Linked DNA regions of Homo sapiens. The protein of the gene in region 6 purifies or fractionates together with the protein of the main gene of each other region. This does not show direct contact. Each region holds a gene or a part of one and is shown on either strand. Other genes may lie near its edges. The genes, in order: BDH2, SETX, STK36, MYO9B, MGME1 and CITED1.

The links.
Region 1: the proteins of CITED1 (region 6) and BDH2 purify together in Homo sapiens (affinity purification with mass spectrometry; one large-scale study listed by BioGRID and IntAct). This does not show direct contact.
Region 2: the proteins of CITED1 (region 6) and SETX purify together in Homo sapiens (affinity purification with mass spectrometry; one large-scale study listed by BioGRID and IntAct). This does not show direct contact.
Region 3: the proteins of CITED1 (region 6) and STK36 purify together in Homo sapiens (affinity purification with mass spectrometry; one large-scale study listed by BioGRID and IntAct). This does not show direct contact.
Region 4: the proteins of CITED1 (region 6) and MYO9B purify together in Homo sapiens (affinity purification with mass spectrometry; one large-scale study listed by BioGRID and IntAct). This does not show direct contact.
Region 5: the proteins of CITED1 (region 6) and MGME1 purify together in Homo sapiens (affinity purification with mass spectrometry; one large-scale study listed by BioGRID and IntAct). This does not show direct contact.

Annotation. Positions count from the first base shown.
Region 1 is NC_000004.12:103,093,286-103,096,862, forward strand, and holds part of BDH2 (dehydrogenase/reductase SDR family member 6), read right to left. Parts: intron 2,990-3,577; 5' UTR 2,970-2,989; coding exon 2,898-2,969; intron 1,997-2,897; coding exon 1,918-1,996; intron 1-1,917. UniProt on the Homo sapiens protein: NAD(H)-dependent dehydrogenase/reductase with a preference for cyclic substrates. Catalyzes stereoselective conversion of 4-oxo-L-proline to cis-4-hydroxy-L-proline, likely a detoxification mechanism for ketoprolines.
Region 2 is NC_000009.12:132,348,425-132,352,001, reverse strand, and holds part of SETX (probable helicase senataxin), read left to right. Parts: intron 1-2,566; 5' UTR 2,567-2,573; coding exon 2,574-2,750; intron 2,751-3,577. UniProt on the Homo sapiens protein: Probable RNA/DNA helicase involved in diverse aspects of RNA metabolism and genomic integrity.
Region 3 is NC_000002.12:218,692,569-218,696,145, reverse strand, and holds part of STK36 (serine/threonine-protein kinase 36), read right to left. Parts: intron 3,564-3,577; coding exon 3,436-3,563; intron 2,907-3,435; coding exon 2,802-2,906; intron 2,424-2,801; coding exon 2,325-2,423; intron 2,252-2,324; coding exon 2,163-2,251; intron 1,883-2,162; coding exon 1,819-1,882; intron 1,622-1,818; coding exon 1,511-1,621; intron 1-1,510.
Region 4 is NC_000019.10:17,082,247-17,085,823, reverse strand, and holds part of MYO9B (unconventional myosin-IXb), read right to left. Parts: intron 1-3,577. UniProt on the Homo sapiens protein: Myosins are actin-based motor molecules with ATPase activity. Unconventional myosins serve in intracellular movements. Binds actin with high affinity both in the absence and presence of ATP and its mechanochemical activity is inhibited by calcium ions.
Region 5 is NC_000020.11:17,988,814-17,991,693, reverse strand, and holds the end of MGME1 (mitochondrial genome maintenance exonuclease 1 isoform 2 precursor), read right to left. Parts: intron 1,756-2,880; coding exon 1,585-1,755; coding exon of another isoform or gene 1,508-1,584; 3' UTR 572-1,507; downstream 1-571. UniProt on the Homo sapiens protein: Metal-dependent single-stranded DNA (ssDNA) exonuclease involved in mitochondrial genome maintenance. Has preference for 5'-3' exonuclease activity but is also capable of endonuclease activity on linear substrates.
Region 6 is NC_000023.11:72,303,065-72,307,105, forward strand, and holds the start of CITED1 (cbp/p300-interacting transactivator 1), read right to left. Parts: upstream 2,851-4,041; 5' UTR 2,761-2,850; intron 2,359-2,760; exon of another isoform or gene 2,251-2,358; coding exon of another isoform or gene 2,238-2,250; intron 1-2,237. UniProt on the Homo sapiens protein: Transcriptional coactivator of the p300/CBP-mediated transcription complex. Enhances SMAD-mediated transcription by strengthening the functional link between the DNA-binding SMAD transcription factors and the p300/CBP transcription coactivator complex.

The DNA.
Region 1 (3,577 bases), on a different chromosome or scaffold from region 6:
TTATGTCATTTCCATTATTTATTAGAAATGACTCTGTTAGTCAAGGGTATCCAGTCAAATACATGTATTTCTGGACTAAACTGCAAGGAGAAGAAATGAGAGGGTCAGAAGAAGGGATGACACCCTTGAAGGCTAGACATGAGAGATCTGGCATGGCGGGCACCTGAGAGATACACACTGCACTAGTTGCTGAGAAACTCCAAACAGTGTCTAACAAAAGCAGCAGTCATCATTATAAATATATACACATATTATTTATAATGTGCATAATATATATTATAACATATAGTAATATAATTTATAATATATACAATGTATTAATATGTATACATATAATATATAATAATATATGAATAATACATATAATATATAGTAATATAATTTATAATATATACAATGTATTAATATGTATATGTATAATATATAATAATATATGTATAATACATATAATATATAATTATCTATAATGTGTATTATATTTTATAATTTATAATATATTATAAATAATATGTATATGGTTTATTTTGGGGGAATATAGAAATAAAAGATTCATAAAGAAAGGGAAGACTTGAAATTTTGTTTCAGAAACATTTCCTTATCTTTGTGCTTCCCCAGTGCAGCAGCTTTACTTTGACTTGTTTGAATTATAATTCAACATATTCCAATTCAATTAACTAATTCAAGGAACTAATTGCTGTTTGATTATGTAACCTGTTCTATTTTGCTGTAAGGGTTACCTTTCATATAGGTTCTCTGTTCTGATTTCTTTGGGTAAACTGCAATTAAAATCCTTTGGTGTTGGAGTTTGGTTCAGTGGGGTGAAGAAGTGGTGGTACACACCTAATAATCTGGGTACTCTCTTAGGGTTTCTCATGATGATGTGTGATTTTAGAGCTAAGCTGTCTCCAGCCACATGTGGCTACTGAGCACCTGAAATGCAGCTAGTCTGAAATGAAATGTGCTGCAAGTGTAAAATACACATGAATTTTAAAGATTTAGTATGAAAATATTGAGACGTTGGTCAAAGGGTACACTCTTGCAGTTATAAGACTTAATATACAGTACAGTGACTATAGTTATTAATAATGTATTGTATACTTGAAATTTGCTAAGAGGGTAGATCCTAGGTATTCTTAGCACACACATACATACACACAGAGGTAACTAAATGAGGTAATGGATATGTTAATTAGCTTGACTGTGATAATCATTTCACAAGGTATTTTACAACATATATGAAAACATCATGTTGAACATCTTGAATATATGCAATTTTTATTTCTCAATTATACCTCAAAGAAGAGAAAATTAAGAGAAAAGCTGCAAAGAGGAGAAAATTAATGTTTGAAGTTTGTAAGAAACTTCTAATAATTTAAATAAAAAATTTAGTAAGAAAAAATTAAAATATTAATTTTTTAACTTGAGTGCATGTTGAGATTATATTTTAGATATATTGGATAAAAGAAAATATATTATTAAATTAATTTTCACTTGATTCTTTTTACTTTTTTAATGTGGATACTAGAAAATTTAAAATTACACAGGCAGCTCACAACATGTTACTATTGGACAGGGCTATCCTAGAGGAGGAGGGCACAGAAGTGAAAAGCTGTCATGAAAAGTTAACCTAACAACTAGTAAATTTTCACATGTAAGTTTGTAATTAGGAACTGAATCCCTCAAATGTGTTAGCTAAATAAAGGATTTTAAGTATTCGTCCTCAAATTTTTCTATGCATGTAAGTCACAGATTTTTGTCTATAGGTTCACAAAATATAGATTTCATATCAGAGAGAGAATCTAAAAAGCACGGCAGTGGAGCTCAGTAGCTAGGGAATTTTCTTTCAACATGTGAGCGCCATGCTTTATAATACCTTGCAGACACTGAATCCCAAATTCAAGCTGCTGAGTTGCTTACCCGGGTACTTTTCCAGTTCCTGAAGTTTGGACTCATTAATGTCTGTGGCTATGACTTTGGCACCTTCTCTTGCAAAAGCCTAGTAGACACAAAGTACAAATAAATCCTTTGTTTACTTGAATAAACTGTGCTCATGAATGGAACATCATGTGGTCTTTTTCTCCTTTATCTTATTTTCATTGTTCTTTTCCCTATAAGATAGCTAGAATTTTAAACTATCTAGTCTTACCCCTTCTCCATTGTTATTATTTTTATCATTAATTAGAACAATGTGACATACATTGTGCTTGTCATCTGACTTAGTCCCTTTAAGTAATATCAAACAAAATAACGTTCTTAAAAAAATGACAGCTGTTTTCAATACTCTCAAAATACTGCTCTTCTGTAATGAGACTATATATCATTTCTGAGTTTGAGTTACTAAACTCCAAATAATAAGAGAAAAATTGGTTGTTTCAACACTTTTCCTACTAAGAGTATGCTAGTGCTTTCATAAATGTCAAACCATACCCTGCCATTATACTTAAGGTACTGTTATACTTAAGGTGCCGATATTAGCTTAAGTGGGGTACATAATGTAACAGAAATTGATATAAATCAGGAGAACAAGGTAACCTGTCTTATAACTCTGGAGTCATATATCTAAACTGACACAATTTCAGAAAGCTGTGTAACCCTGTTTGCCCTCTGTAGCGAATATATCATGATGCAGAGAAACTGAAGTAGAGAAGTTTCTCAGAGTCAATGGTTATCAGTGATGTCATGTACTAAATATGAGGTATTCATTCCTTCATCTGCCTGGGGTCAGGAGTAGGGACCTATTTATTTATTTGTTTATTTTTATAACTTAAGACAACAGAAGCACAAAAGTAAAAAAATAAAAAAGCAGAGCAGAAGTAAACAACCATGGCATCAGTCCACATAATTCAATATGTCAAGAGTTAGTAGGCAAACAACAAAGATAGTAACTTATAACTTACTAAGGCAGCTGCTTGGCCAATCCCCTGAGCAGCGGCCGTCAGGATGATGACTTTCCCATCAAGTCGACCCATAATGGAACCTGTGGTTTAATCTAAAGACATGTGTGTTTAATGGGTTATACTGTAGAACATGATCTTGAGCAGGCAGTAACATCTAGAATGAATAGTTCAGTGTGCTCTTTTAAGAATAATTTAGTGAGCTCCTTCAGGAACTTGAAGACAGCACCTCTGTGCAAGTAGTCCCATCATCTGAATTCTCCTAGAATGCTTACTCTGCATACCTAGCTTTGTATATCAAACACATTTACCATAACCCACTGAAGTAATGACTGGTGACAGACATTGGCCATTTTTTTTTTTTTTTTTTTTTTTTATGAGATGGAGTTTCACTCTTGTCACCCAGGCTGGAGTGTAATGGAGTGATCTCGGCTCACTGCAACCTCCGCCTTTTAGGTTCAAGCAATTCTCCTGCCGCAGCCTCCTGAGTAGCTGGGATTACAGGTGCCTGCCACCACGCCCAGCCAATTTCTGTATTTTTTGTAGAGACGGGCTTTCACCATGTTGGCCAGACTGGTCTCAAACTCCTGACCTCAGGCAATCCACCTGCCTCAGCCTTCCAAAGTGCTGAGATTACAGGCCTGAGCCACTGTGCCCAGCCCAGATATTGCACTTTAACCTAC
Region 2 (3,577 bases), on a different chromosome or scaffold from region 6:
GCCTAAGGATAAGTCTGTAGAAAATTACAGTAATACCTATGGTGAAGCATCCTATATTTTTGGTTTTGACACATTAGCTCTCTTTTTGGTGGGTGCTCAGAGAGTTGCTTTAATTTTGGTTTTGCAACTTGAGTATTGTCTGGACACACCCATTTGTCATTCACTAATGATTGCAAGCCGTTACAGTCTGATGAAACTAACAAAATAGACCTCAAGAAGAACTGAGTTGTATAAAAGCTTAAGAGGATTCACAGTAGTTTAGAAGCAATAATTTTCTCCTTAAAGACAAAATATGCCCTATTGAGGTTTCCTGGGCTTAGCCATTAGGCCAGTGATGATTTTAAATTTGAAGACAAAACCACACACACAGCCTTTTGAAGAAGAACCATGGAAGCACATGTTCTCTTGTTGGTGTGCTCTGCAGCAGTATTCTCCGTTATCTTCTAGCGGCCATGACACTCACCTATTTTGGTAGTAACTCCTATATATTTTGAGAAAATTTAGTCTTGCTTTTTTGGTTGTGGAAATAGGCTAGTTTTCTAAGTGAAATAAAAAGCAAATTCTGTAATTTTCTTAATAGAAGGTTTCTTTTGTTGTCTCCTTTGTTAGTACTTATTTTAAAGTACACAACATTTGGAGCTTCAAGTAAGGTAAGTGGGAAAAGAAGTATGCAACATTTTATTTGCATGGTAGTCTCACTTAAGTTTTTTAAAGCTTAAATTGGCTGCAGTCTGTTAGCTGCTGAAATCATGCTTCAAATGTTTGAGAAACCTCCATGAAGTTTCACTTTCTGTTCTTACGTCTTCTAAGTTCACTTTCCATATTAAACTAGGTTACCGGAAAAAAAAACAGCTTCTGCAAGCTGTTAACTTACTAGTAGTGTGATGTTGGCCTCTTAGGTATAAGTAATTCTTCTTTTGAATAAAATAATTTTAAATTCTGCAGAAATACATTGAAGACCTTATCCCATGTTACTTGGCATTTCCTAGTCTGCAGTGCCCTTGTACTAGAAGGCATTAATAAAATGTAATTGAGTTAGAGTTTGTGTCAGGAAAGGGCGGTACTCTGCGGCTATCACTGCATACTCTTTTTCCCCCCCACGTCGATGAGAACTGTGTAACTCATGTTATCCTTTTTCTCTGCTTTCAGGAAGCTCCTCATGTAGAACTTAGTGAAATTAAATTTCTTCTAAAGAAGTTTTGATTTTGTTTTTTGAAATCTCATTTTTAAATGTCCTTTTGTGTGTATGTACTTTAATGTTGAAAGCTACCCTAAATTCTTTTTAGAACCATGAAGAAAGTATACCTCTTCAAAAGCATAAGTAAAAGTAATATTTAATAAATTTTAAAAAATCAATTCATATGACAATGTATTTGATTATGCTTATGCATTTCTAAATAATTATTTAATTGTGGGTATAAGAAGAAATTAAAGAATTTTAAAAAATCACTTTATTTTAGGAACTAGCTTTATGCCACAGAAGCCTCAGCAGCCAAGCCTAGTTTCTGTTGAGATGTTTTATATTTCCTGTTGGTAAAGATTATGTATTCTGAATTTTAGGGTGACGGTGATACTCAAAAATCTCACACTGCCATGTTTCCATTCCCACATACTCAGTGTCTTCACTTAGGTTTCTTTTGTTTGTTTGTTTTGAGACAGAGTTTCACTCTGTCACCCAGGCTGGAGTGCAGTGGCGCAATCTTGGCTCACTGCAACCTCTGCCTCCCACGTTCAGGCAGTACTCCTGCCTCAGCCTCCCAAGCAGCTAGGATTGCAGATGCGCACCACCAGCTAATTTTTGTATTCTTTTTAGTAGAGATGGGGTTTCACCATGTTGGCCAGGCTGGTCTCGAACTGCGGACCTCAAGCAGTCTGCCCACGTCGGCCTCCCAAAGTGCTGGGCTTACAGGCATGAGCCACCGTTCCCAGCTTACTTAGGTTTTTTAACCTCCTTCTAACCTTTCTCCCTGAGTGGAGAGTTTTTAAACATTTTTAAAAACTGCCTCTCCTGTGAATTTTATTACCACCAATATATTGTGTCTCTCTTTATGTACTGTATGTTTATCTGAGCTTTATATCTAAAAAGAGGAGGGCTTTTTCACGTCCCACTAACTAGTTTTAGATCTCTTTGAGGGTGACATCACTCCTGATGAGAATGCTGAGCTAGGTCCATTCAGTTTATGAAATGAACTTAAGTTTGTAGTTGGTAACTTTTTTCCCCATTCCAAAATCTGTACTTTGAAAATATTGGTAAGTCTGGGTCTCTATATATTTTCTATCGGTACTGTGTTGTTTTGAGCCTTCTCTGTAGCACAACTTTATGTTGCCTTATGATACTTATTCCTTATACAATGCTTTTATTTTTCTGTATTTTTCGTATGTCAAAAATAGAAGGATTTTTTTAGTTTAGTGAATCAGTGATTGATAAGCCAGCCAGCAGAAGATTTGGGTTTTAGTGACACATTTTAAATTGAAACCAGGGTCACAAGTTGAAAGTGTACCTATTCTTGACACACAGTAGGTCTGAAGTTGGTTTTCTTCTTGATGTCATCTTTTCTGGCTGTAGGTACAGAATGAGCACATGTTGTTGGTGTACGCCAGGTGGTGCTTCCACCATTGACTTCCTAAAGCGCTATGCTTCCAACACTCCGTCCGGTGAATTTCAAACAGCCGACGAAGACCTCTGCTACTGCTTGGAGTGTGTGGCTGAGTACCACAAAGCAAGAGATGAATTGCCATTCTTGCATGAGGTAAAATATATTAGATGGGCAATATTTTTCAGAGCTTGATAGCTGGGAAGAGAGTAAGTTTGAACTCCGTTGGAAGTATTCAGAGAAATGATGATACGATTTCAACTTTGTGGGTTTTTTTTTTTGTTTTTGTTTTGTTTTTGTTGTTGTTAGAGATGGAGTCTCACTCTGTCACTCAGGCTGGAGTGCAGTGGAGTGATTATACATATATCATTTTACACATTCGAGTATATTCTTAGGACAAATTCCTGAAAGTGGAAGTGCTGTCTCATGATTTTCCATGGGCCACATGGGTTTTCATAGTTTGTTTTGCTATGTTTTGGAGACAAGGTCTTTGCTCTGTTGCCCAGGCTGGAAGTGCAGTGGTGCGATCACGGTTCACTGCAGCCTCAACCTTCTGGACTCAAGCCATCCTCCCACCTCATCCTCCTGAGTAGCTGGGACTACAGGCATGTGCCACCATGCTCTGCTAATTTTTAAAATTTTTTTGTAGAGACGAGGTCTTATTATTTTGCCCAGGCTGGTCCTGAACTCCTGAGCTCAAGTGATCCTTCCGGTTTGGCCCCCCAGTGTTGGAATTACAGGCATGAGCCACCATGCCTGGCCGACTTTGAAGGCTAATATAAGTCAAGTACCTAACTCATTGCCTGGTATATACTAGGTGCTGAGTAAATGTTTATCACGGATGGAATTGAAACCTGGATCAGAATTTTATGATCTGTTGCTTTTAGTCACATTGGTATAAAATAATTTAATGAAATAAAGTCATTGGGAGGGGATTTGTTTCATAATTTTTTGGTCAGTGCTATAATACATGCATGTATCTG
Region 3 (3,577 bases), on a different chromosome or scaffold from region 6:
TCACGCCTGTAATCCCAGCACTTTGGGAGGCTGAGGCGGGGGGATCAGGAAGTCAGGAGTTCCAGACCAGCCTGGCCAACATTGTGAAACCCCGTCTCTACTAAAAATACAAAAATTAGCTGGGCATGGAGGTGTGCACCTGTTGTCCCAGCTACTCAGGAGGATAAGGCAGGAGAATCGCTTGAACCCAGGAGGTGGAGGTTGCAGTGAGCCGAGATCACGCCACTGCACTCCAGCCTGGTGACAGAGTGAGACTGCATCTCAAAAAAAAAAAAAAAAAAAAGAATTCTACATATATAAAGATGGCAGGCTGGGCACAGTGGCTCATTCCTGTAATCCCAGCACTTTAGGAGGCTGAGGCGGATGGATCACTTGAGGTCAGGAGTTCGAGACCAGCCTGGCCAACATGGTGAAACCCCATCTCTACTAAAAACACACAAAAAAATTAGCCAGGCATGGTGGTGTATACCTGTAATCCCAACTACTTGGGAGGCTGAGGCAGGAGAATCACTTGAACCTGGGAGGCGGAGGTTGTAGTGAGCCAAGATCGTGCCACTACACTCCAGCCTGGGCGACAGAATAAGACTCCGTCTCAAAAAAAAAAAAAAAAAAAAAAAAGACTGGACATGGTGGCTCACACCTATAATCCCAGCACTTTGAGAGGCCGAGGTGGGCGGATCACATGTGAGGTCAGGAGTTCGAGACCAGCCTGACCAACATGGAGAAACCCTGTCTCTACTAAAAATACAAAAATTAGCTGGGCATGGTGGTGCATGCCTGTAATCCCAGCTACTCGGGAGGCTGAGGCAGGAGAATCGCTTGAACCCAGGAGGCAGAGGTTGCGGTGAGCCGAGATCGCGCCATGGCACTCCAGCCTGGACAAGAGTGAAACTCCATCTCAAAAAAAAAAAAAAAAAAAAAAAGGGATGACAATAATTTGATTATAAAGTCTATCCTTCTTTTTACAAAATGAAGGAAAGATGAGTTCCAAAGGGTCTAAAAATGAAAGGAAGAAAAGTCCTGGGAAAGGAGAAAGCAGAAAGAAGGCTACATAATGGACTGAGTTCCTGAAGAATTCACAGGATGTCAGCCACCTTTTCCATCTGTTAAGAAGAACAAGTGGGGAAAGCAGAGTGGAAGCTGCAGTCAGAGGTGAAATTATGCATTAGGAAGGACTCTGCCAAGAGCATGAGCTTCTGGAGGAGGAGAACGAAGCAGGCAGGGTTCTCACACTACTCAGAAAACTCAGGTTAGTCACCCTTCCTCTTCCCTTCCCTCCCTCACTCTCTAGAAGCTCTGCATATTAAAAAGAAATCTAAAGTCCAGATCAATCTGGGCTCAGAGGGGCCTATCATCCGGCGACAAATCTAGAAAAGGAAGGGCTCCTTGATTCCTTTTCCATTCCTCAGTTTACTCCAGGCTTGCTGGCATTTCAGTCTTTTCCCCTTGAATGCAGTCCTAGTGTCTGACTCAGAGAAAACATGTCTGTGCCCTCCCTGGGGGGCCTCACCTCTGCAGGGGCAGACAAGGCATGTGTGGCTGCAGCCATCCATTCCATGGGCTGGAGGTCAAAGGTCACCCCTTGCTGACCAAGCTGTCCCAATAGACAGGCTGCTGCACTCTGTGGGAGAGGTAAAAGAGGAGAAAGAATGTCCAAATCTAAATGGCATTCAGGACAGGCAGAGAGGATTTATGTCTCTGTCCTGGTCCAAAAGAATGCCTCCAGAAACAGATGCAAATTGGATAGTGACTCCCCCACTTCCACAAGGGGTAGATGCTAGGGTGAAAAGGGGAGGAGGGTGAAGGTTAAAAACTTACCACAAGAGAGACGACATGCGAATGGGTAAAGAGAGTAGCAACGTCACTGCCTAGCTTCTCCATTCTGGAATAAAGAGATACATCAAGGGATGCAGCAGTATTAAAGGAGGTTGGTAAGCGGCCTCCCCTCTCCCTTGCATGGTGTTCTTCACCTAGGCTGCATGTCTACCTCCAAGGCACAAAGTTGATGGGAGTCTAGGTCTGTTCTTTGTAGAGAAAGCTTCACGCTCTCTATCCCAATTCCTCCTAAGGATATGCTGTAGGGTACCATTCCCCATACTCTTTGTGAGGGTTAGCTATGTGGCTAGAAGACTTCTGTGGAGACACCCTACTTTATGACTTACCCACAAGGCAGGTTTTGGAGCCGAAAGACAAGAAGGGAGAGGAAGTAGAGTGTCACTTCAGTAGACTCTTCCCAATCTACTACTTTTACCTACAAAGGAAACCTAAGATATCAGAACAACCTCTGGCTGAGACAGTGGGGCTGCCAGGGGAAGCTGGCTTACCTTGCCCTGAATCAACATAAACAGGGATTCCAAGGCCAGGGGCTCCTGCCCCAGAAGACGGCACAGGCCCTCACTGACAAGGCAGCAGGAGTATAGAACCTGAGGGAGAAGGAAGGAGTCTGGCAGTGAGGCAGGGCAGGCCCCGGGCTCCAAGATTGAAGGCTCAGCGGAAACACCGGCCAGCCCCTCAAAAGATCTGGTACCCACACTTGGGAGTGTGAGAGAACCCCCTTCTGCCTCTTGCTATGAGATAGTGAGACAGGGACCCTTCTCGGTTCCGCTGAGGACTGGCTAACAGTGGGGTCCTCTCAGTTGAACAGATTTAAAAGCAGAAAGGAGTCTTCCAAGGGGGTGTCTCAAATGGTCTCTCTCAGTCTCTCTCTCTTTTAGTCCTCCTCTCTTGGTCTGTTTCTCTGCTTCTCTGTCTGCACTGGGAGTTAAAAATAAAGCTGTGATGCCAGGAGTTAAGAGGATTACCTTGAGAAGGTGCAGGCACAGGATGGGATGCTGCAGGCCAGAGATGAGGGATGGCCTGAGCTGGCTGCTGTCTTCAGTTAGCTGATTTGCCAAATGCCAACAGACCTATAGAGACATACCTGAAGGCTCAATCCTATCCACATGATTACAACCCTATTCCTCACATATGTCCAAAATGATCAGGACTCTCAGTCTCTTCCTAGTCACTCTTCCCACATTCACCAGAAACCTCAGACCCCATTCTATTCCCAGTCTTCATCACCAATAGAGAACCAAAAGTCATGGCCTAGTTTGGCCCCAGTGTAGCCAGGTACAGAGGAAAGGATTACCGACCAACAGGGATCAGGAAAGCTGAATTCTCAGCCCTTGAGGAAGCATCACTGGAGGCTTCAGATCAGCTGCCCCACCATCTGGGCAGTTTATCACTGTGCTCTCTCCCTCACCAACTGGCCATGGGCTCTGGGATTCTGGCTATATCATGTTCTACAAATGGCCCAGGGTGGGAGCATCTGTTTCTGGAAGTACTAAAGGAGGGGCTTAAAAGCTTGTTTTTCTGCCTTTCTGAAAAACTGGGGCTAGCCTCCTCAATTCCTCTGGCAGTAGGATGAGAGGAACAACCAATTGTAGCTCGGACCTGCTCCTTGGCATCCCAGCAGTCGGGCAGTCCCACAGGAGCAGTGCATATGGCTGCCAGGGCAGAGGAAATGGCTCCAGGTATATCCTCACTCTGCTCTCGCAGTGGCTGGCTCACTTGCGGGGCTCCTGTGGAGAAAAGC
Region 4 (3,577 bases), on a different chromosome or scaffold from region 6:
GAGGAAAGCCATCCCCAGGGTAAGAACAGGGGTCTCCCTATGTTGCCCAGGCCGGTCTCGAACTCCTGGGTTCAAGTAATCCTCCCACCTCAGCTTCTGGAGTAGCTGGGACTACAGGTGCAAGTCCACATTCGGTAAATTTTTCAATTTTTTTTTTTTTTTATTAAAGACGGGATCTCCCTATGTTGCCCAGGCCAGTCTCAAACTTCTGGGCTCAAGTGATTCTCCTGCCTCAGCCTCCCAAAGAGCTGGAATTACAGGCATGAGCCACTGCCCCTGGCTAGAACATTTACATCACCTTAAAAAGAAACCCTGTACCTTTTAGCTATCACCTATCCCACTGATTCCCCCAAAGACCCCCCAAGTTTATTCCCATTCTCCACATCTGCTGAGCTGCCTAGGTGGCTCGCTACCTGGCCCCCCATCTGCCCCATGCTTCTAGTTTCCACGTGGAGTGCTCTCTGCCTGCCAGGATCTCCCAATGCTGCCCATCTGTGACCCAGCCCTTGCGGCCTTCAGACAGATGCTCCTCCTCCTGGCCATGAAACCCACCCTCTGCCTGGTTTCTACAAAGGACACAGGGAGCTCGTTCCATTTTCTGATCACCTGAGAGCGGAACTGGATGGTGGGGGACAATGGTCTCAGGATTTGCTGCCACCAGTGTCTTCGGTGAAACAGCCACTCCCCAGCTCCCCTTGAAGCTCATCCCTGTGCCAGGGACCCTGGTGATCACACCACAAAGGCAGGGGAGAAAGAAGTCACCTCAGGCCAGTCACGGGCTTGACCTGTAGGTCTCAACAGGCTCTGCTTGCCCCTCAAAAGCTTGGTGTTCTTCTATATCATTGTTTCTCCCCTGGAGCTGACTCTGTCCTCAGGGACACTTGGCAACCTCTGTCCCGAGACATGTTTTTTTCCCTTTGAGACAGAGTCTTGCTCTGTTGCCCAGGCTGGAGTGCAGTGGCATGATCTTGGCTCACTGCAACCTCCACCTCCCGGGTTCAAGCGATTGTTTTGCCTCAGCCTCCCAAGTAGCTGGGATTACAGGTGCACCACACCATACCTGGCTAATTTTGTGTGTGTGTGTGTTTTTCTTTTTTTCTTTTTTTTTTTTTTTGTATTTTTAGTAGACACAAGATTTCACCATGTTGGCCAGGCTGGTCTCAAACTCCTAGCTTCAAGTGATCTGCCTGCCTCAGCCTCCCAAAGTGTTGGGATTACAGATGTGAGCCACTGCGCCTGGCCCAGAGACATATTAAGGGTTGTTGGGACAGGGAGGATGCTACCAACATGAAGAAGGTTGAGGCTGGAAATGCTGGTCCACACCCCGTGGTGCTCAGGGTCCCACCACAGAGAGGGACCCAGCCACAAATATCAGCAGTGCTGAGGGTGAGAGACCCTACATTAATTATTTGGAAAAAAATTGATTCTTTCCTCACACTAAATACCAGAATACACAGAATACATTCCCAATAATTTTTTTTTTTTTTGAGATGAGTCTCACTCTGTCACCCAGGCTGGAGTGCAGTGGCACCATCTTGGCTCACTGCAGCCTCAACCTCCCAGGCTCAAGTGATCCTCCGGCCTCAGCCTCCTGAGTAGCTGGGACCACAGGCATGTGTCAACATACCTGGCTAATTTTTGTATCTTTTTTGTAGAGACGGGGATTCACTATGTTGCCAAGGCTGGTCTGGAAGTCCTGGGCCCAAGGGATCCTCCCACCTCCGCCTCCCAAAGTGCTGGGATTACAGGCATGTAATCACTTGGCCCCCAAAGGGTTATTAACCCAAAGGGTTATTAACCAGGAGAATCCACCTAGCCTCTCTGATTTCTCTCCTCTCTCCTTCCCCATTCACTTTGTGTATTTAAATGTGCGGGCTGGGCATGGTGGCTCACATCTGCAATCCCAGCACCTTGGGAGGCTGAGGTGGGTGGATCACCTGAGGTCACGAATTCAAGACCAGCCTGGCCAACATGGTGAAATTCCATCTCTACTAAAAATATAAAAATTAGCTGGGCGTGGTAGCGGGTGCCTGTAACCCCACCTACTTGGGAGGCTGAGGCAGGAGAATCGGTAACTTGAAGCTGGGAGGTGGAGGCTGCAGTGAGCCGAGGCCGTGCCATTGCACTCCAGCCTGGGCAACAAGAACGAAACTCAGTCTCAAAAAAAAAAAAAAAAAAGAGGGCAGCATCCTAGGACTTCGGTCAGTCAGATGATGACAGACGCAAAGTCACTTAGGAGTCAACAGAACCCGGAACTAGTGTTTCTCACCCAGAGCTGACTCTGCCCTCCAGGAGACACTTGGCCATGTCTGGAGACATTTCTGGTTATCCAGACACAGAGCAGGGGGTGCTACTGGCATCTGAAGGGTGGAGGCCGGGGATGCTGTTCAACACCCTACAGTGCAGACGGCAGCTGCTACCCAAGAGAATGATCTGCCCCCAATGTCACCAATGCTGCAGCTGAGAAGATATGCTTTAAATCAATCAGAAAAGTGGCTGGGCGTGGTGGCTCACGCCTGTAATCCCAGCACTTTGGGAGGCTGAGGCGGGTGATCACTTGAGCCCAGGAGTTCAAGACCAGGCAACATGGTGAAACCCTGTCTCTATAAACAATACAAAAATTAGCCTGGCGTGGTGGTGACAGCCTGTAGTCCCAAGCTACTAGGGAGAATGAGGTAGGACGATCACTTGAGCCCAGGGAGGTTGTCAAGCCTGCAGTGAGCCAAGATCATGCCTCTGCACTTTATCCTAGGTGACAGAGTGAGACCCTGTCTCAAAAAAAAAAAAAAAAAAAAAAGCAAGATTCACACACTTTCAGCCTCCTCGAGGACCCACGGGCACTTGACATGTTAGCATGGTTCCAACCCCACGCTCACTTGGCTGCAGGATATTGAGAGTGCGGAGTGCAAGAGGGAGCCAGCCTTGAGGACGTACCTGCCCCGGTTCAGGCCACTTTCTGCACTCCAGGACACCCCAACCCTTACCTTCTCCCTTCCCTGCTAAATCATGGGCCTGACTCCCGAGGGACCACCCAGGGGAAAGGAACCAGTTTCCACGGCACCTATGGGCCAAATAAGTACGATCACACTTTCTCCGCCTCTCTTGTTCTTGTGCCTACCCAATAAACAGCATCTCCACGTGACAAGACAAGGACCCCAGGGGTCTTCCCAAGCAGTGGGCAAGCTACCCCTTGCCCCCCATGGCACATTCACCAGGAAATTAAAGCCCCACGTGAGTACCCATACCCTGGGAATCAAAATCTCAAATGTCACCCTCCTGCCCCCGATCTCGTCTGCCCTGGAATGGGATGCAGGAGGTGGCAGACGCCTCCTCGTGGAGATGCTCTGAGCAGTGAGCCCAGGAAGATCCACAGCAAAGCCTTGAGCCTCCCACTGCTGCTGTGCTGCTGTGACTTCACTCGTGAGGAAGCAGCGGTGCCCACCTCGCAGGCAGAAGACCCAGGGCACGGCTGACTGGGGAAGCTCTCAGGTCTCCCACTTCCCCCATAAGCGAGTCCCCAGGCCAGGCAGGCTCCCGTCACAGGCTCGCCTGCTGCCGGCACCTTCACAGACCCCAC
Region 5 (2,880 bases), on a different chromosome or scaffold from region 6:
TGAGAAAAACCCACATGAATGCAGAAGTGTATAGAGATAATACAAAGGTCCCCCTTGATCCTCCCATCTCCTACCTGAATATTGCTTTCCTTGCTAGGTGACCGTGGCTGAGGGCTTAGTGAGGAGGCTTTTTTTTTTTTTTTTTTTTAAACGGAGTCTCGCTCTGTCGCCCAGGCTGGAGTGCAGTGGCGTGATCTCGGCTCACTGCAAGCTCCGCCTTCCGGGTATACGCCATTCTCCTGCCTCAGCCTCCGGAGCACCTGGGACTACAGGCGCCCGCCACGACGCCCAGCTAATTTTTTGTATTTTTAGTAGAGACGGGGTTTCACCGTGTTACCCAGGATGGTCTCGATCTCCTGACCTTGTGATCCGCCCGCCTCGGCCTCCCAAAGTGCTGGGATTTCAGGCGTGAGCCACTGCGCCCAGCCGAGGACGCTTTCTTTTATGCACTTACACAGAACTCTCACCAAAGCTATTGGGCTTGTAAAATTCTGAATTATAAAAAAAGTGCAAACAATTTCCAGGTTTATAAAATTATCCTATAAACACACAAAGTAAACAAAACCAAAGCTTCATTACTCATATCTTGTATTTTATTTCTTATGAAAATGGCTACCCAAAGAAGTCATTGTAGCAGGCTACTATTTTAAGGCAGCAACTGTATAACTTAAATGCTAAGACTCACTCCATAAGACAGAAAACCCTTCCCCAGGGCTGTAATGGGCATTTAAGTTTCCCAAACCCAGGGACAACTAATTTTTATTACCTATTGAATAGAAACAAATGGATTTTAATAGTTCCCCTCCCCTATAGCTGAAAAACTCCACAAACAATAATTGACTCTATCTACATGATCTGTTGACTCACGCCAGAAATAGTTACTAAAACACTTAGAATTGTGATGTTCAAACTGGCCTCTGGCTACTTCTGGGGGGTTATTTGGTGTTACGCAATGACATATTGCCAGCGACATGGTGAATATACTGTCTTTATAGTCAGCAATGTTTAGTTGAGGCTAATCACGTATTTATTTTTTCAAAAGGTTAAATGTAAGCTTTTCCCAGCTGAAATATATAGAAAACCCCAATGTATGAAACAAGTTTTAGGCATTGGTGTTGGCAGCGGTAGTGGGCTGATGTGTCCTCCCTGCACACAGCTGGGGGCATGTAGCCCCTTCCCCTCTGGGTGAACCCTGGGGAAATCTTGGCACCCTCAGCCTCACTGCCTTCCAATCTCAGCTCAAAGACTGGGCATCCTGCCTGGGACCACGCCCCCCCCCCCCCAATGTCCCTCAAGGGAGTACAAGAGTCACCAGCATGACTGCCCATCCTGCGTGTCCTCCTTTCAGGTAAATAAGAGGTAGCATAGCTGGGATTTCGCGTGCCGAAGTCTAGGTCTTTATATCTAGACTTTGGGGCTTTTCAGTCTTTTTGGTAACAACACATTTCAACAAATTAATACTTCTACTTGTGTTCGTGTAGCACTCAGATCCAGTGGCACCTCATTTTTACACTGGAGTAAACAGCAATATATGTTCCCAAACTGTGAGAAGGTGCTGAATGTTCCCAAATAGCAACTTGCTCCCTATTCTGAATATTCTGGTTTCTGAATATTCTGGTTCTTTTTCTTTTCCGTATATTCTTCTAGTCGAAGAAGCCACTTGGTCCAGTACTGGGAACAGAGCTCTGCATCCATGAAATGTGGGTGGGCAGGTGATCCATCTTTGTAGGCCACCACAATTAAGCCACATTGAACCTAGGAAGAAACACAGGGCAATTCTCGTTTCACTACAGTAGGTCCAGAGTTTAGGTTCGTTTCCTTCTTACTCCAGGGCAAACTCAGTATAAAATAATCTACAGGATATCTCCTAACTCAGTTTCTAAGGTAGGTTGATCAAAGACTGCACCAGGACACAAGAACACAAAGATGACAGATAAAACATTGAAGACTGGGCTGTGATCCTTACAGAGCCATTGAAAAAAAAAAAAGGCCCAAGAAGAGGGTGGAAAAGTGCTTTTTTTTTCTTTTTTGAGACAGGATCCCACTCCCATCGTCCAGGCTGGAGTGCAGTGGCACAATCTCGGCTCGTTGCACCCTCGAAGCTGAGGCGGGCACCACTTCCGGCTGATTTTTCTATTTTTAGTAATGATGGAGTTTTGTCACGTTGCCCAGGCTGGTCTTGAACTCCTGGGCTCAAGCAATCTGCCCACCTCGGCCTCCTTCAAAGTGCTGGGATTACAGGCATGAGCCACCACCCCTGGCCAAAAAGTGCTATTTATTTATTTATTTATTTATTTATTTATTTGGAGAGAGACAGTCTTGCTCTGTTGCCCAGGCTGGAGTGCAGTGGAACAACCTTGGCTCACCGCAACCTCCGCCTCCTGGGTTCAAGCGATTCTCCTGCCTCAGCCTCCCAAGTAGGTGGGACTAGAGGCACACACCACCACGCCCAGCTAATTTTTGTATTTTTAGTAGAGACAGGGTTTCGCCATGTCAGCCAAGCTGGTCTTGAACTCCTGACATCAGGTGATCTGCCCAACTCGGCCTCCCAAAGTGCTGGAATTATAGGCTTGGGCCACCACACCTGGCCTATTTATTTATTTTTGAGACAGGGTTTTGCTCTGTCGGCCAGGCTAGAGTGCAGTGGTACAATCTCGGCTCACTGGAACCTCCACTTCCTGGGCTCAAGCAATCCTCCCACCTCAGCCTCCCAAGTAGCTGGCACAAGTGTGCGCCACCATGTCCAGCTAATTTTTGTATTTTTTTTGTAGATACGGGGTTTCACTATGTTGCCCAGGCTGGACTCAAACTCCTGAGCACAAGCAATCTGCCTGCCTCGGCCTCCCAAAGTGCGTGAGCCACTGTGCCCAGCCAAAAAGT
Region 6 (4,041 bases):
AGAGATCACCCGAGCACAGGGAGGAGATCAAGCTGGAACTTTTGCCTGAGGCAGGAAAGGTGCTTGATTCGGCCAGGTACTGCCCAGGCAGCCACCTACCCATATCACCAAGATGGGACATACTGCTTCCTCATGCAAGTGACTTCACAGTCCCAAGGTGTATGTGTGGGGGTGAGGGTGGCACTGTTCCTGGTTCAGAGGACAGGAATGTCCCTGAGTAAGCAACATATTGTCTCAATGGGCTACTAGCATCCAGGCTGGAGAGTTGGGGCCTCCACTGGGACTGGGAGAATGTGAGAAGAAGTCAGGGCAAGGAAGACCTAGAAAGCTAGAGGCTGCAGCACAGGGAAATAACAAGTCTCTAGCGCAAATGTCATGGAGCTCCAAAGCATGACCTTGGGCATGCCTGTGAGAAGCCAGGCTGATTAGGGTGGTCTGGGGGCTCTGAGGCAGCTGGAGCCAGAGAAGCTAGGAATGTGTCACTTTCCTCCATGTCTCAAGCCCCCTCCAAGACAGCCCCAGCATTGGGCTTTCCTAGGATGCCTACCCCAGAAACCTGAGTCCAGCCATTCCCATCTATAGTGACAAGTGAGGCACAGAGATTCAATGCCTTTTTAGTCAGGTAGCAGCGGTTCTGGGAGCAGAATCTAGCACCCCTATGGCCACATGCCTCACCTGACCACTGGCTAAGTCATCATACCTAGCTGGATTCAAAAGGCTTCCAAAGAAGTGATTTCCTGGCTCAAGTGCCAAAGGATAAGGGAATGAAGGCAAAAGAATACCTCCAAACCAGAAAATAAACAAACCTCTGAAAATCTCAACTTATTTTCCTGGAGGCCTGTTTACAAAGAAGAAAAAAATGTCCCATAGCTAGGCACAGTAGCACCCTCCTGTAGTCTCAGCTACTCAGGAAGCTGAGGTGGGAGGATCACCTGAGCCCTGGAGTTTGATACCAGGCTGGGCAACATAGCGGGACCCTATCTCTTTAAAAAAAAAAAGCCCCATATATTCTAGCTTTCATGATCAATTAGAGATGTAGAATTTCATATTTATAAATACCTCTTGGTCCAAAGAATCTTGAGGACCTTAAAAAGAGTCTCTAATCTTTCCAAGGAGGCTAGAATTCTCCGTGACACTCTCCACTCCGCAGCGGTCATTAAGAATCTGCTCAGACACTTCTAGAAAGTGGCCACTTACTACCTCTCTGTATCATCTTTGCATTGCTTACTTGGGTGGATGGGGGTAGGGGAGGGAAAAAATAGAGAAAGGGGTAAACATTTTTTTAAAAACATGAGGAAAAAATATCAGCTGTTGGGTCCCGCATCATTGCTTGATTGAAGCCCTGCTCCTTCTCTGAGGCAACCGTAGAAAAATATTTCAAAAGCAAGTGATCACCAGACAAGAAGTCTAACACATGTCGTCTTCAAGAGCCCTAGCACAATCAGTATCAGACAATTTTCCTGTCCTAAGAAAAATGTCTGGGGGCCCTGTCCATCTTTTCCTGTTCCTATCCAGCCTTCCCTCTCCTTTTTGCCGCTTGGTACCCGAATGTACAAAACGAAGAAAAAACAACAGGAGCAGCAGCAACAACAGCAAAACCAAAAGAGAAACATTAGAAAAATCAAAAGAGAGAACGAGCAAAAAAACTCTCTCTATTCTGATATCAGTTCGTGGGGGAAGACCATTTTACCGCGCCTCCCTCTTCAATCTGGGAGCTCCCCCAGAAGAGGCCCTGTGTCCATTCAGATCTTCTGCCTTCCATTACTGACCCACCACCCACCCTGACCCCAGCCTGGGTCTGCGCTCAATAGGCGCTCAGTAAGTGTTGTTGAATGCGTCTGAAGAAGCAATCGCATTTCCATCGGCATCCCTGGCTCTGCTTCCCCGGCTTTCTGCCCTCCTCCACCACCCTCTAGCCCGTTCGTGGGCAAAACTTGGCAACGCGGAAACGTCCCAGCCCGCTCTCCAAGCCGCGAGCTGACCACTGCGAAACGGCTGCGACAGGCGGCTGGGAAACCTAGAGCAACAAGTGCCTTCTCGCCGGCTGATGCCTGGCGGCCCCCCGGCCACCAGTTCCCAGTCCCGCTGCCCGCTCTTCGCTTCAGGCCTTCCCTTGGGCGAGCAGCCCCCTCCCGCCTAGACAGGGGTGGGAAGGGGAGAGGGAAAAGAGAAGGGAGAGGCAGGTGGGGGCCTCATCTTTAACCTGTTGGGGGACCAAAAGTTAAAATGGCACCAACCGGATGGTTCCATCTCGATTGCTATTTTCTCACTCAGAAGGAGAAATTTAAAAATCCAAACAGCACTGCGGCTTGGCTTGGACGCGCTCTAACCAGACCAGTCAGTTTCGCCACCTGAAAACTAAAGGCCCGTTGTTTGCGGACAGCTCGGCTGCCCTCCTCGCCGCATCCCAGATGGAGCCGCGGAACCGGGGGCGGCCGGGAGCATCCCTTGCACGGCGGGCGCGTGCACCCAGGCCACCGGGGCCCTGAGCGTCCGTTCCCGCAAGTGCTGTATCAGGAACTGATCTTAGAGACAGGATGGACAGGCAGGAAGGGGCACGGGGTGTCGGCCTCCGCGGCGAGTCCGCACTCCGGCGCCGGCTGCTGCCACTCTCGCGCCTGATCAACACTTACTGAGCGCCCGCTGAGCATCCGACGCGGCAGCAGGCTGAGCCTACCCCCTAGCCAAGCCGCCTGCGGTCAGTGCTAAAACCCCGCTAGGAGAAGAGTGAGAGAGGCTCGGAGAGGTGCGGTAACTTGCCCAAGGTCACAGCGCTAGAAAGTGGCGGAGCCGGGATTCGCAGCCAGGTCTCTCTGACTCCAAGTCCGGTGCTCTGCGAAGCAGGGACTCGGCGCGCGGCTCGCCAGCCCGCGTTTATAGGGAGAGGGGTGTGCGCGTGGGTGTGTGTGTGTGGGCGTGTGTCGGGGGAGGGGAGGGCTGAGGTCGACTGGGCAGTAGAGGCAAGTTGCCCAAATTCGCTAACTTCCATCCCGCAATTCCGCTGAACTCGGCCCGAAAAGCCCCCTCTTGCCTCAATTCCCCGAAGTAAATCTGAGCTTTGTGCAGCTCCGGAGCCAGAGCGTCCAGATGCGGTCCGGGAGATTAGCAAAGTCGGTGGAAGCCAAGCTGGAGAAAGCGCGGGCGCAGGGAGAAAAGGTGCTGCCGTCTCCCCGGGAGAAGCGGGCACCCGGCCCCGCTGGCCGGCAGGGGGGCGCGCTGGCAAGCGAACCCGAGCGCTGGCGGGCGGGCGGGCGGGCGGCCCCTCGCCCCCAGCAGAGCAGCTTTCCAACAGAAAGCAAGTCTCCCCAGAACCCTCCGGCCCGCCTGGCGGCCGCCCACTCCCCATACCCGCTCCACGGGAGTCCTCGGCCCCGCCGCCCAGCCCGGCGCCCAGCCCGGCGGCCCGGCTTACCTCTGAGAAGCCGCCTGCCCTGGAGAGAGGGAAGCGCGGAGCTCGGTGAGCCGCAAGAGAGGCGGCGGAGCCCCCAGCCCCTGGCACGCACGCCGCCGCCACCGCTACCGCGAACCGGTCGCGCTCAGCGCCCGCGGCCGCGCCGTTGGCCACCCGACCCCGGGGCGCCTGGGAAAAGCCCGCACCGCGCCGCGCCGCCGCTGCACCGCACAGTGCCGCGCCAAGCAGCCCCTGACCGAGCTGGTGCCCGCCCGCCCGCCCGCAGCTTCGGCGCCGGACTCCGGGGCGGTGGCGGTGGCGGCCACCGCGCTCCCTTCCCGGCGCTGGGGACCCGGCTCTCAAGCCCCCATTGCCGCCCGGAGAGCCCTGACGCACACGCACACGGCAGCAGACTGGCCTCGGCTAGGAATCCCAGGAAGGACAGACCCTTTTTTTCCCTTTTTTTTTCTCCCCTCAATTTCCACGTCTTTATAACCGGCTTAGGGCATTATTAGCACATGTCCTGGCTCGTGGGCGAGTTGGTGGCAAAATCTGAACTGGATACTCACGGAGGGCCCGCGCGGGTGCTGTGCCGTCCGCTGCTCTCTTCCTCCTCACCGAGAACTGCCCCTCGCCGGCGGACTACAAGA